3 linked regions of the Homo sapiens genome follow. The protein of the gene in region 1 purifies or fractionates together with the protein of each later gene. This does not show direct contact. Each region holds a gene or a part of one and is shown on either strand. Other genes may lie near its edges.

Region 1 (3,649 bases):
GAGTTTGAAAAGAGAGCTCAGAGTTACCAGCTGGGCTGGAACCAGGCCAGTGAGGAAGGCCTGGAACACCATGCTAAGGGCTTTGGACCTGACCCAGCACCTCCTAGGCTTCATTAACTACTTTTATGTGGGCACCAATGAGAGGAAACTGCCTTTGGGACCTCCTTGTCCAATTATGTTTGCAGCCCTAAGGAGATCTGGGCTTGAGTGGGGAGATTGGGACATGATGCTTTGGGGCTAGGTGATGGGGAGAAAGGGTCAGCTATAAGAAAAGAGGCTCCGTTGAGAGAGAGTCATGGGAGAAAGCAGGTTTAGGGGTAGCCCTGACTTGTTTGAGGGGATGGTACAACTGCCCAGAGGGGCCATGTGGGGTCTAGGTTGCCAGCACCCACACTTGGGAGTCGTTGATGCAAGGCTGCTGTGGGGAGGTAGACATCAGTTGTGCAGAAGGTTGGGTTTGAGTGCCAAGGTTCTCTGGTTGGGAGGGAAGGATGGCCAGAGGGGTTCAGGCCAAGGCAGTGGGCTGTGGCACAGGTCAGCTGCTCAGGTGCTGAGGAGATGCTTCTGTGGGGCAGGAGTCAGGGCCCCCTGTCGGTTCCTGACCCCGAGCCTGTATCCACATCTGCACAAGGGCTGCCACTGGCCCTATCTCCTGGGCTGTCCTTAGCTGGACCTGCTTCACCACCCTGCGGCTATGGGCAGGAGAGACTCTGAATCCGCTGCCCCTTCCTCTCCTTCCTCTTTCTAGCTGTCTCAGGGCAGTGGGGCTCAGGAATGGAGGAGGCATGACTCTGCACAACATGGAGCTGCCTAAGGTCTGCCCTCCAGAGGGGCTGAACCTGGGAACCTTCCCTCGGGCAGCATTTTACCCCATTCCAGGGAGTCAGAGAAACCAGCCACACAAGTTGGAGTGTGACCATGACCCTCTGCTTTGGGTCCTCGTGGTTTCTTTTTATAGAGCGGTGGGCCACCTCCAGTGGCCCCAGCTCACTCGGGGCCTGCCGCTCAGCCCTCTGCTAAGGCCAGGCCTCCACATTCTTACCCGGAACCTTCTGTCTAGACAACCAGGGCTGAGATGGGGGTGGAAGGGTGGCAGGAGTCAGGAGCCAGGAGCTGGGGGTCTCTAGAGAATACCACTGAGGCAGAAGGGAGGAGGCCTCAGAGTCTCAGTCCCTTTGAAACCCACCCCTGAGCCCCACGGGGGGGTTGTGTGAGTGAGGGCCGGCTCCTTTAGCAGGGTCCATGCATGAGTCCCACACGTGGGTGTGTGAGGAGCAGGGGTGAACATGGAGGGCTACGAGCCCAGCTGATAGAGAAGGCTCCTCTGAGGGAGCATGCTTGTGAGGGGTTTGGACCAGACGTGGCCCTACTTGAGTCCTGCATCAGTGGGAGGGCCTGGGAGGACTAGGCAGGGGCAGCATCCCCCGTCTCCTAGAGCTGGCTGCAGGAACAGACACACTTTCCAATCTGGTCCTCTGGGACCATCTGGGGCCTCCTCCTGAGTAGGAAAACAGGTGGGCCCTTATGGGTAGCAACCACAGCCCCTGGGGCCACCTATGCCAGGAGACATGGAGCCCTCAGCCCAGGCATCCCTGGCCATCCCAGGTGGAGCAAAGCTACAGAGTGGAAGGGCCTTTCCCCCTGGGGGCATCGGGCTCCCTCTGGGGAAACTTGGCCTGGAGTTGGTGCTCGGGTGTACTCAGGGTGTGTCTGAGATTTGTTGAGAATTCAGACATCGGGTGGGGCTGCTTCACTGTTTTAACTCAGATTTAGCGCCCACCCCGCAGCTTGACCTTTCTTCCCCAGTGGGCTCATGTCTTGCTTTATTTCTCTCTTGGCAGAATGCAGAGCCAGAGCCCCGGAGCCTCTCCCTGGGCGGCCATGTGGGTTTCGACAGCCTCCCCGACCAGCTGGTCAGCAAGTCGGTCACTCAGGGCTTCAGCTTCAACATCCTCTGTGTGGGTGAGTGTCAGGGCCTGGCCTCAGACAGAGGGTGGGTGAGAACCTCCTGGGAGAGGGGGTGCTTCTGGCCCCCTGTTGAGCTGCAAGGGGGCTTCCCAGGCAGAGTGAAACTTTGGGGGTGTCAGGACGAGGATTTGGTTGGTGTCTCTGCCAGAGTCAAGGATAGAGTTAGAGCCAGGGCCTGACACAGCATTGTCATGAAGAGTAAACTGGATCGGGCACATGAAAGTGCTTTGTAAACTGTGGGTGTTTATCACAGAGATTTAGGTTCATTTATTCATTTGTTTGTTCATTTAAAAAACATGTACTCATTTACTGCTTCCCACCCTGTGTCAAGGACGTTATGGTAAACAGCTCTGCCCCTCATCACCATATCCTATGGTAAGTGCTCCAGCACGCATGTGAACAAATAACAGCCCCAAGCAGAGAGGCTCTCGGAGGTTCCCTGGGACTCCCAGAAGGACACAAAGTGCTCTTCTGGTCCCTCTGCAGGTGTCCTTCGGGAAGCAGCCCATCCTGAGTTCCCCCAGCTAAAGCCATGTGGAGCTAGGGCTGTCCGGGGCGCATGGGTTGAGCCACTGGTGGCTTTAGACCCTGGCCCTCTTGGTCCCATGACCACCCTGGTCCCAGGAGGGGTGTTGTGTAGAGCAGGTTATGTGTGAGGTGATTGGGTCTGCAGTGGTGTCTACACAGCTGCCTGGCTCTGTCTCTTCCCTGCTCCCTGAGGAAATACATCACATATCACACACAGCTATGTCTTCTGTCCAAGTTCACCTTTTGGCTCTTCCTTCCACAGGTTATTTCTGAGGCCACAGGAAAAGATAGTTCCTGGGGAATGGGGGTGATGAGGGATGGGGTGGGCGGCCTGCCCCTTTCTCTTATCCAGGGGCCATGGATGCCTGAGCCCTGCCTGGCCTAGCCACCAGTCAAGGACAGCCCATTTCCAGCCTATGACACCCACTTCTTCCCCTCCTGTCCTCACTGCCCAGGGGAGACCGGCATTGGCAAATCCACACTGATGAACACACTCTTCAACACGACCTTCGAGACTGAGGAAGCCAGTCACCATGAGGCATGCGTGCGCCTGCGGCCCCAGACCTATGACCTCCAGGAGAGCAACGTGCAGCTCAAGCTGACCATTGTGGATGCCGTGGGCTTTGGGGATCAGATCAATAAGGATGAGAGGCAAGAGGCGGGAAGGGCGGCCCCACCCAGCCTCCTCCCACCCCACCTACATTGGCCCCTATAACAGTAGCCCAGCCCTCACACTGCAGGGGGCCAGGGAGGGCCTCTTGGGGAATATCTGAGGCTCTGTGGTCACCAACAGACCAGTTACTCCTTTAGGTGTCTGGAGAAGGGGTCAGCTGCCTGTATCCAGTCAGGGATCTCAGGCAGAAGCTGTTCCCAGAAAGAAAAGGCCAGGGGGCAGCCTGGCTTGGCCCCGAGCCCTGAGCCCCCCAAGCCCCAAGCCCCTGATCTCAGCTGGCAGCCTCCTGGGTGATGGAGCTGTCTGTAGTTACAGGCCCATAGTTGACTACATCGATGCGCAGTTTGAAAATTATCTGCAGGAGGAGCTGAAGATCCGCCGCTCGCTCTTCGACTACCATGACACAAGGATCCACGTTTGCCTCTACTTCATCACGCCCACAGGGCACTCCCTGAAGTCTCTAGATCTAGTGACCATGAA
Region 2 (3,649 bases), on another chromosome or scaffold:
ACAACTCTTATTTATGCTCGCAACACGGATGCTCAATTACAAAACTGCACACTTCTGAGTTGCAAGACCAGACGATAACCTTGTCTTGCCATCAATATGCGTAACAGACGGGAATTTTACCCCAAACACTTATGTCAGCATCAGGGAAGTAGAGGGGGCAGGATGACAAAACAGATTTGCCTTTGTACTGAGCAGCACAGACCTGGATTTGAATCCTGACTAGGCCACTCATCCTACGTGGCAGATAGCACATTTCTTGACCTCTCTGAGTCTTCAGAATGCCTCCAATTGTAAAATTTGATCCTTTTGTTGTGATAATTAAATTAAGAAAACTCAGTTCAGCCCTTAGTGGTCCATGGTAGGCACTCTGTCTCTATATTTCTTGGATGTAGCAAACACTTTCTCTAAGGGCCCAGAACATTCTCCTGCTTAGCTCTTTGATCTGGACAACACAGCCCAAAGTCCCAGGAAAGGATGGGCAAAAGGGGAGTGAAAAAATGCCTGAAAATGCCACACTTACCAACAGGGGAGATCCAGGAATCACCCAAGGCAACCCCCGCAAAGTTGCACTTGATGGTCCCTCGCTGAATGGCCTGAAAGAGGAAACAAGAAACGTCCTCAGGCCAGGTGCAGTGGCTCACGCAGTAATCCCAACACTTTGGGAAGCTTAGGCAGGAGGATCGCTTGAGCCTAGGAATACAAGACCAGCCTAGGCAATGTAGTGAGACCCCCATCTCTACAAAAAGTTAAAAAATCAGTGGGACATGGTGGTATGTGCCTTATAGTCCCAGATACCCAGGATGCTGAGGTCAGAGGATCACTTGACCCCAGGAGGTCGAGGCTAGCCTGGGCAGCATGGCAAAACCCCATCTCTACAAAAAAATACAAAAATTAGCCAGGCACGGTAGTGCTCGTCTGTAGTCCCAGTTACTCGGGAGGCTGAGGCAGGAGGATACTTGAGCCCAGGAGGCAGAGGCTGGAGTGAGCCATGATCATGCTACTGTACTCCAGCCTCTAGTCTGGGCAACACAGCAAGATCCTGTCTCAAAAAGAAAAAGTCTGAATATTTGAGATGAAAATTTACAGAAATAGAAAGTTGAGAACTACTGATTGAAGAAAGCAGGCTGAAACCAGTATGTATAATATGATCTCATTCAGCTAAACAATTCTATATAAATGTGCACAAAAATATTTAGAAAGCTATATACCCAGATGCTAACTATAGTGATCTCCATCAGGTGGGAAGGTGAAGTTTTCATTTTTAATTTATGCTTGTTACAGTTTCCAATATTCTATAATGTACATATGCTGTTTCTATAAGTTTTTTAAATTAATAAATCTTAAAAAAAACCCTTATTTAAGCTCACTGATATTCAAACATAGGAGATAGAAGGAAATGTGAAAGTCTTTTACTTTGTCTCATTTGTGCCCTCACACTCACCAACTGACTGCAGTTAAGTGTGTCATGTATCCTTCTAACCCTTTTGTTTGCCGTCACAGCATACAAATCTATCTCCACATATGGAAGTGTTTTTGACTTACAAACAAAGTTATCTCATATCGTTCCACAACTAAATACCCAAAGGAGAACTTTCCACACTCAGTATATATAGCTCTCTGTATTCTTTCTTTTTTCTTTCTTGTAGAGACAGGGGTCTCACTATGTTGTCCAGGCTGGTCTCTAACTCCTGATCTCAAGCAATCCTCCTACCTCAGCCTCCCAAAGTGCTAAGATCCATTCTTTTTTTTTTTGAGAAAGAGTCTCGCTCTGTCACCCAGACTAGAGGCGCAATCTCAGCTCACTGCAACCTCTGCTCCCTGGGTTCAAGCAGTTCTCCTGCCTCAGCCTCCCTAGTAGCTGGGATTACAGGCGTGCACTACCATGCCCAGCTAATTTTTGTATTTTTAGTAGAGATGGGGTTTCACCATGTTGGCTAGGCTGCTCTCCAACTCCTAACCTCAAGCGATCTGCCGGCCTCGGCCTCCCAAAGTGCTGGGATTACAGGCATGAGCCACCGCGCCCGCCTGGATCCATTCTTTATGCTGGCTGCAAAGGGTTTCATCTTGGAAAGATATACCTACTTTATTTAAGCAATCCTCTACTGACAGCCAACCAGCTGTTTTCAGTTTATAAACATTATAAACAATGGCATAATAAACATTCTCTGACATATACATATGTATAAGTATTCCCATAGGACAAAATTATTGGGTGAAATGACACATATCTTTAAAAAATTGACATTGTCAAATTGTCCTTTTAAATTTAAATTAATTTGTATTCCCATCAAAAGTGCACGACAGCACTTATTTCCCTGACTTCTTACCAAAACTGGGTGTTATCAGTCTTTTAAATATTTACAAATCTCATGGACTTGGCTTACTAATAAAAGCTGAAGATTTTTCTTATGTCTAAAGGCTGTTTATATTTCTTCTACAAATTGCTTGTCCACATTTTTCTACTAGGACATTGGTTTTGGTTTTTGTTTTCATTTTTTTCCTGAGACACAGTCTTGTTCTGTCACCCAGGCTGGAGTGCAGTGCCATGATCACAGCTCACTGCAGCTTCAACTCCTTGAGCTCAAGCGATCCTCCCACCTCATCCTCCCAGGTAGCTGGGATTACAGCCAGGAGCCACTGTGCCCAGCTTATTATTTTTTTTTTTTTTGTAGAAACAGGGTGTCGCTATGTTGCCCAGGCTGGTCTGGAACTCCTGGTCACAAGCAGTCCTCCTGCCTGGGCTTCCCAAAGTGCTGGGATTATAGGCGTGGGCCACTGCATTCTGTCCTAATTTTTATTTTTATGTTTAGATTTTAATCCATCCAGAATTAATATTTTATACAAGGCAAGAATACAAGTTTTCTATTTTCCAAAGTGATAGGTATTTGTCTCCATTATTTTTATTTTTATGTTTAGATTTTAATCCATCCAGAATTAATATTTTATACAAGGCAGGAATACAAGTTTTCTATTTTCCAAAGTGATAGGTATTTGTCTCCATAACATTTATCGACATTATATCCATGCCCCAATGATTTGAAACGTTATCTTATATTTATATATGATCATATATATTTATATAAAATACAAATATATGATACACATACATATATATGTGTGTGTGTTTCTGGATTCTGTATCCTGTTGCAATTAACCTATTTGTCTATTGCTATGTTAGTACCACATTCTTTTACTCACTCATGCTTTATATCTTGTTCCAGATCTAGCAGGGCAATCTTCATTCTTCTTTTAAAAACTTTTTATGGTTATTACTACAGATTTAATCGTACTCTGCATGTACATGGCCCTATTCAAAGTATATTTAATAGCACGTGAGTACATAAAAGTAACATAATTGATTTTCTGTCCAAAACCATAACAACAAAGTTATTTTCCATTACCTTATAAAGCTCTAGACCAATGCCAGCTGCCATTTTTCCTCCATAGGACTCTGAGAAAATGTAGAATGGAACTGTCTAGCAAGAAAAGGAATTACACAGAATTAACTACCTTGATTGCTTTTTGAGTCACACAAATTAATTTCAAATTTCTATTGCACGTAATGACCAGAAAAAACAAATCTGCTTTGTCTTCCTCCCCCACCACTCCATATCTGATTATTGCGTCTGATTAGAATGCTCACTCCAAG
Region 3 (4,208 bases), on another chromosome or scaffold:
TGTATTTTTAGTAGAGATGGGGTTTCACCGTGTTGGCCAGGCTGGTCTCAAACTCCTGACCTCAGGTGATCCACCCACCTTGGCCTCCCAAAGTGCTGGGATTACAGGCATGACCCACCACGCCCAGCCCTCTCCTATTTTTTCCTAGCCAGAATTGAGAAGTCCATTTCTATTAATAGTTACACCCATTTTTCTTAAACTATTTATCGTCCAATTATAATCCTTTGAACACTAGGAAGGAACACAATTTCCACACACATTCACATATATAGGCAACATTTGCCAAGCACACATCTGCACCCTATCATATGGCTATAGTTTGCCTTATTGCAGTAGGGGTATTTGGAGGATTCAGAACATGTTTTCACCTGGAATGGAAAGGAGGCAAAGATTGTGTGCTAATGGAAATCATTAAGATCAGTAACCCAGGGCTCTCAAGTATGGACAGTTAGAGATACTGACTCGGAACTGAGATTTAGGGAAAACAGTTATTCAGTACCTATTTCTAGAATGTTTGAATATACAACATATAGACAGTGTATAGTTTATAGTCAAAATATAATGTACAGCCAGTCCAGTTCCCAAACCGATTGTCTGGGTTCACCCCTTATTAGCTTTGCCACTTGTTATCTGTGTGACCTCAACTAAATTACTTTACCTCTCTGTGCCTCAGTTTCAATATCAGTAAAATAGAGATAATGACAGAATTTAGCTCTCACGGTAATTTTGAGGACTAAAAAGTTAATGAAAGATTTGAACAGTGCATTGATATACTAAGTGAAATGCAATGTTTAGTTATCTTTTATCTGGTCATTTTATTAGAATCTCTACAAAATACAGAAACAAAAGTTTTATTATGCAGTCTTATTTTTGTTCACTGTTACGTAACACATTTTACACATTTTCCGCATTCCACGCCCCGCCCTTCAACAACAACCACCACAAACTCCGACCGTCCTTTCCAGGCCCTTTCCCTCTATAAACCTGCCGTTTTCTGTCTCCCAAGTCATCCCAGTTTAGAACTGCTCCAGGAAATAATGAATGAACAGAGAGAGCCTAGTTTGTTTATTTATTTACAATCCACTAGTCTAATCTAGTTTAGATCCAGCGGCAATTTTTGGGGTGCCAAGGAGGAAAGAAGGAGATGGCAGTGCGGGGACAGGGCAGAGCCTGGGCCAAAGGAAGCCACACCCAGTTCTTGCCCTGCCCTGCCCGACACAGGCAACGTGACCCCAAGCGACAGCCAGCTGATGCTTGCTTCTCCGAGCCCGGCGGTCAGCAGCCGGAAGTAGCCCGCCCGGGGGCGGGGAAAGGTGCCTTAAGGAGGAGCTAGGGGCGTGCGGCCAATTGCAAGCGACTGTCCTAGCGAAGAGGGCGGAAGAGGAGAGATCCAGTTCCGGACGCGGCCGCCGCCGTCGCCGCCATCTGTCACCTCCACTCCGGCATCAGCAGCCAGTCGCCCGTGTCCCGCCTGTCTCCTCGGCGGAGCCTGCTGCCCGTCCTGCCACCTCTCTGCTCTGTTCTTGTCTCTGCCTTCATTCCCGAATGGATCTGGTAGGAGTGGCATCGCCTGAGCCCGGGACGGCAGCGGCCTGGGGACCCAGCAAGGTAAGTGGCAGACGAGACTGGAGTACTAGCCTTGGTCACACGGGCTGGATCTCTCGGAAAGCTCGGAGAGGGCGGCTTCGTGGGCGATTCGGGAAGTTCTGGGGCGGGACCCCGCGGACCTCGGCAAGGGGGCACTGGCCGCGGGGGTGCCGGGATGGGGATGGAGGGAGCGGAAAGAGGGGCGGAGGGCGGCTGGATCTCCCAAAGGCCACCTTGAGTGGTTAGGGCTCTCTATTTCTTCAGCGTACTTTCTGTATCACCGTAGCATGTATTTGAGCAGGACTGGCTTACACACCCTGATGATACTGGAGGGGAAACAAGCACGATCTTGTTTTTCACTGGCCAAGTGAGTCAGCCGAATACACAGCTAGCCAGACAGAAAGTTGGTTTAGGAAGCTGTTTACTTAATTTGATAAGTGTGGTTATCCCAGTTTGGAAATGTCTTGTTTTTGAAGCAGTAAAAGATAAAACCCAGGCGCACCCTCCTCCCTCGACGCTGAAATTCAAGTGCGCACCACGGACTGTAAAGTGCTTATGAATTTCATTATCTGCCTAAGCTTTGACGTTTAAACTTTTTCATAGAGTGGCAAACTAAAGACCTTTATTTCACATTTGCTTTCTGGTTTCCAGGCAGGTCCTTTTCATGATACTTTGATTATATGGATGAAAACACTTTTCTGCCACTTTATGGAGGGTCTGCTTGAGAGCAGAGTGCTTCCATTGGGATTTTTTGTTCCACAAATTAAGGTCGTAAAGGAGTCTAGCTTTTTTAGCTTCATAGTTGTTCTTTACATGCTAACACAGAATATTTGTTCCCATTTAAAAGGTCTTATTAGATCTTCAGGCTAGGCCTTAACAGGAAAAGGGGTCAATAATTAGCTATTAAGTAACCAAAAGTTAATTTTGTAAAAGTTCTCGTACAGCTGTTGGAAGAATCTGAGATACTGCGTTGGCAAATGTGGTTAAGTCTGCATGTTATTTTGTGTATTTTTCCTTGAGACCTTGTTTACAAGGTCAAGATTAGCAGACATAAAAGGATGAAATCAGTAGACAGACTAGTATTATGAATATATACCCTGTATGTTAAAGTCCTTCAGTTAAGCATTGGCAGAGGCTGGTAAAAATGTCAAATGAGACAGACTCTATTCAGAATACATCCTAATCTCAGAACAAATTTCACTTACAAACTAATTCAGTAATAAACTATTTAACAGTCATATTTTTATTTAAGTGTACATCATCAGAACTATAAAATTCCATTTTCATTGTGCAACAAAAATGCTTCTGGGATTTATAGACGCTCTATTGGGAGGACAGTGTTTTGAAAGGCAAAACAATTAGAAACAGGCTGAAAGTACTATCATTAATCCTTTTTTTCTCTAACCTTTTGGAAAACCAAAGTGATTACAGAAGCCTACATGGAGGAGGTGAAGATTTGAGGAGGGTTTTGAAAAATGGAAGGATTCTCAAAACTTTTTAGTCAGGACTTCTTTCCTTCCTTCCTTCCTTCCTTTCCTTCCTTTCCTTTCCTTTCTTTCCTTCCTTTCTTTTCTTTCCTTTCTTTCCTTTTCATTTATTTATTTATTTGAGACGGAGTCTCGCCCTATCGCCCAGGCTGGAGTACAGTGGTTTGCTCCCAGCTCACTGCGACCTCTGCCTTCCGGGTTCAGGCAATTCTTGTGACTCAGCCTCCTGAGTAGCTGGGATTACAGGCGCCTGCCACCACGCCCAGCTGATTTTCGTATTTTTTTTTGTAGAGATGGGATTTCACCGTATTGGCCAGGCTGGTCTCAAACTCCGACCTCAAGTGTCCACCCGCCTCGGCCTCCCACACTGCTGGGATTACAGGCGTGAGCCACCATGCCCAACGTCTTTCTTTTTTTTTTTTTCTTTTTCTTTTTTTTTTTTGAGACGGAGTCTCGCTTTGTTGCCCAGGCTGTAGTGCAGTGGCGCGATCTCGGCTCACTGCAAGCTCCGCCTCCTGGGTTCAAGCGATTCTCCTGCCTCAGCCTCCCGAGTAGTGGGACCACAGGTGCCCACCACCACACCCGGCTAATTTTTTGTATTTTTAGTAGAGGCGGGGTTTCACCGTGTTAGCCAAGATGGTCTCGATCTCCTGACCTCGTGATCCGCCCACCTTGGCCTCTTTCTTTTTTAATTGAGACAGGGTCTCACTCTGTCACCCAGGCTGGAGTGCAGTGGCATGATCACATCTCACACTGTGCCTTGACCTTGCAGGCTCCCACCTCGGCCTCCTGATTAGCTGGACTACAGGCCAGTGCCACCACACCTAGCTAATTTTTGGGTTTTTTTTGAGACGGAGCCTCGCTCTGTCACCAGGCTGGAGAGCAGTGGCATGATCTCAGCTCACTGCAACCTCCGCCTCCTGGGTTCAAGCAATTCTTCTTCCTCAGCCTCCCAAGTAGCTGGGACTACAGGTGCATGCCACCATGCCCAGCTAATTTTTATATTTTTAGTAGAGATGGGGTTTCACCATGTTGGCCAGGATGGTCTCGATCTCTTGACATTGTGATCCTCCCACCTTGGCCTCCCAAAGTGCTGGGATTACAGGTGTGAGCCACCGCGCCCAGCCAATTTTT

What was found.
Region 2: the proteins of SEPTIN8 (region 1) and SCPEP1 fractionate together in Homo sapiens (co-fractionation; one large-scale study listed by BioGRID). This does not show direct contact.
Region 3: the proteins of SEPTIN8 (region 1) and RIOK3 purify together in Homo sapiens (affinity purification with mass spectrometry; one large-scale study listed by BioGRID and IntAct). This does not show direct contact.

Annotation. Positions count from the first base shown.
Region 1 is NC_000005.10:132,763,722-132,767,370, reverse strand, and holds part of SEPTIN8 (septin-8), read left to right. Parts: intron 1-1,841; coding exon 1,842-1,962; intron 1,963-2,951; coding exon 2,952-3,147; intron 3,148-3,478; coding exon 3,479-3,649. UniProt on the Homo sapiens protein: Filament-forming cytoskeletal GTPase. May play a role in platelet secretion. Seems to participate in the process of SNARE complex formation in synaptic vesicles.
Region 2 is NC_000017.11:56,988,043-56,991,691, reverse strand, and holds part of SCPEP1 (retinoid-inducible serine carboxypeptidase precursor), read right to left. Parts: intron 3,477-3,649; coding exon 3,402-3,476; intron 594-3,401; coding exon 521-593; intron 1-520. UniProt on the Homo sapiens protein: May be involved in vascular wall and kidney homeostasis.
Region 3 is NC_000018.10:23,451,895-23,456,102, forward strand, and holds the start of RIOK3 (serine/threonine-protein kinase RIO3), read left to right. Parts: upstream 1-1,392; 5' UTR 1,393-1,545; coding exon 1,546-1,608; intron 1,609-4,208.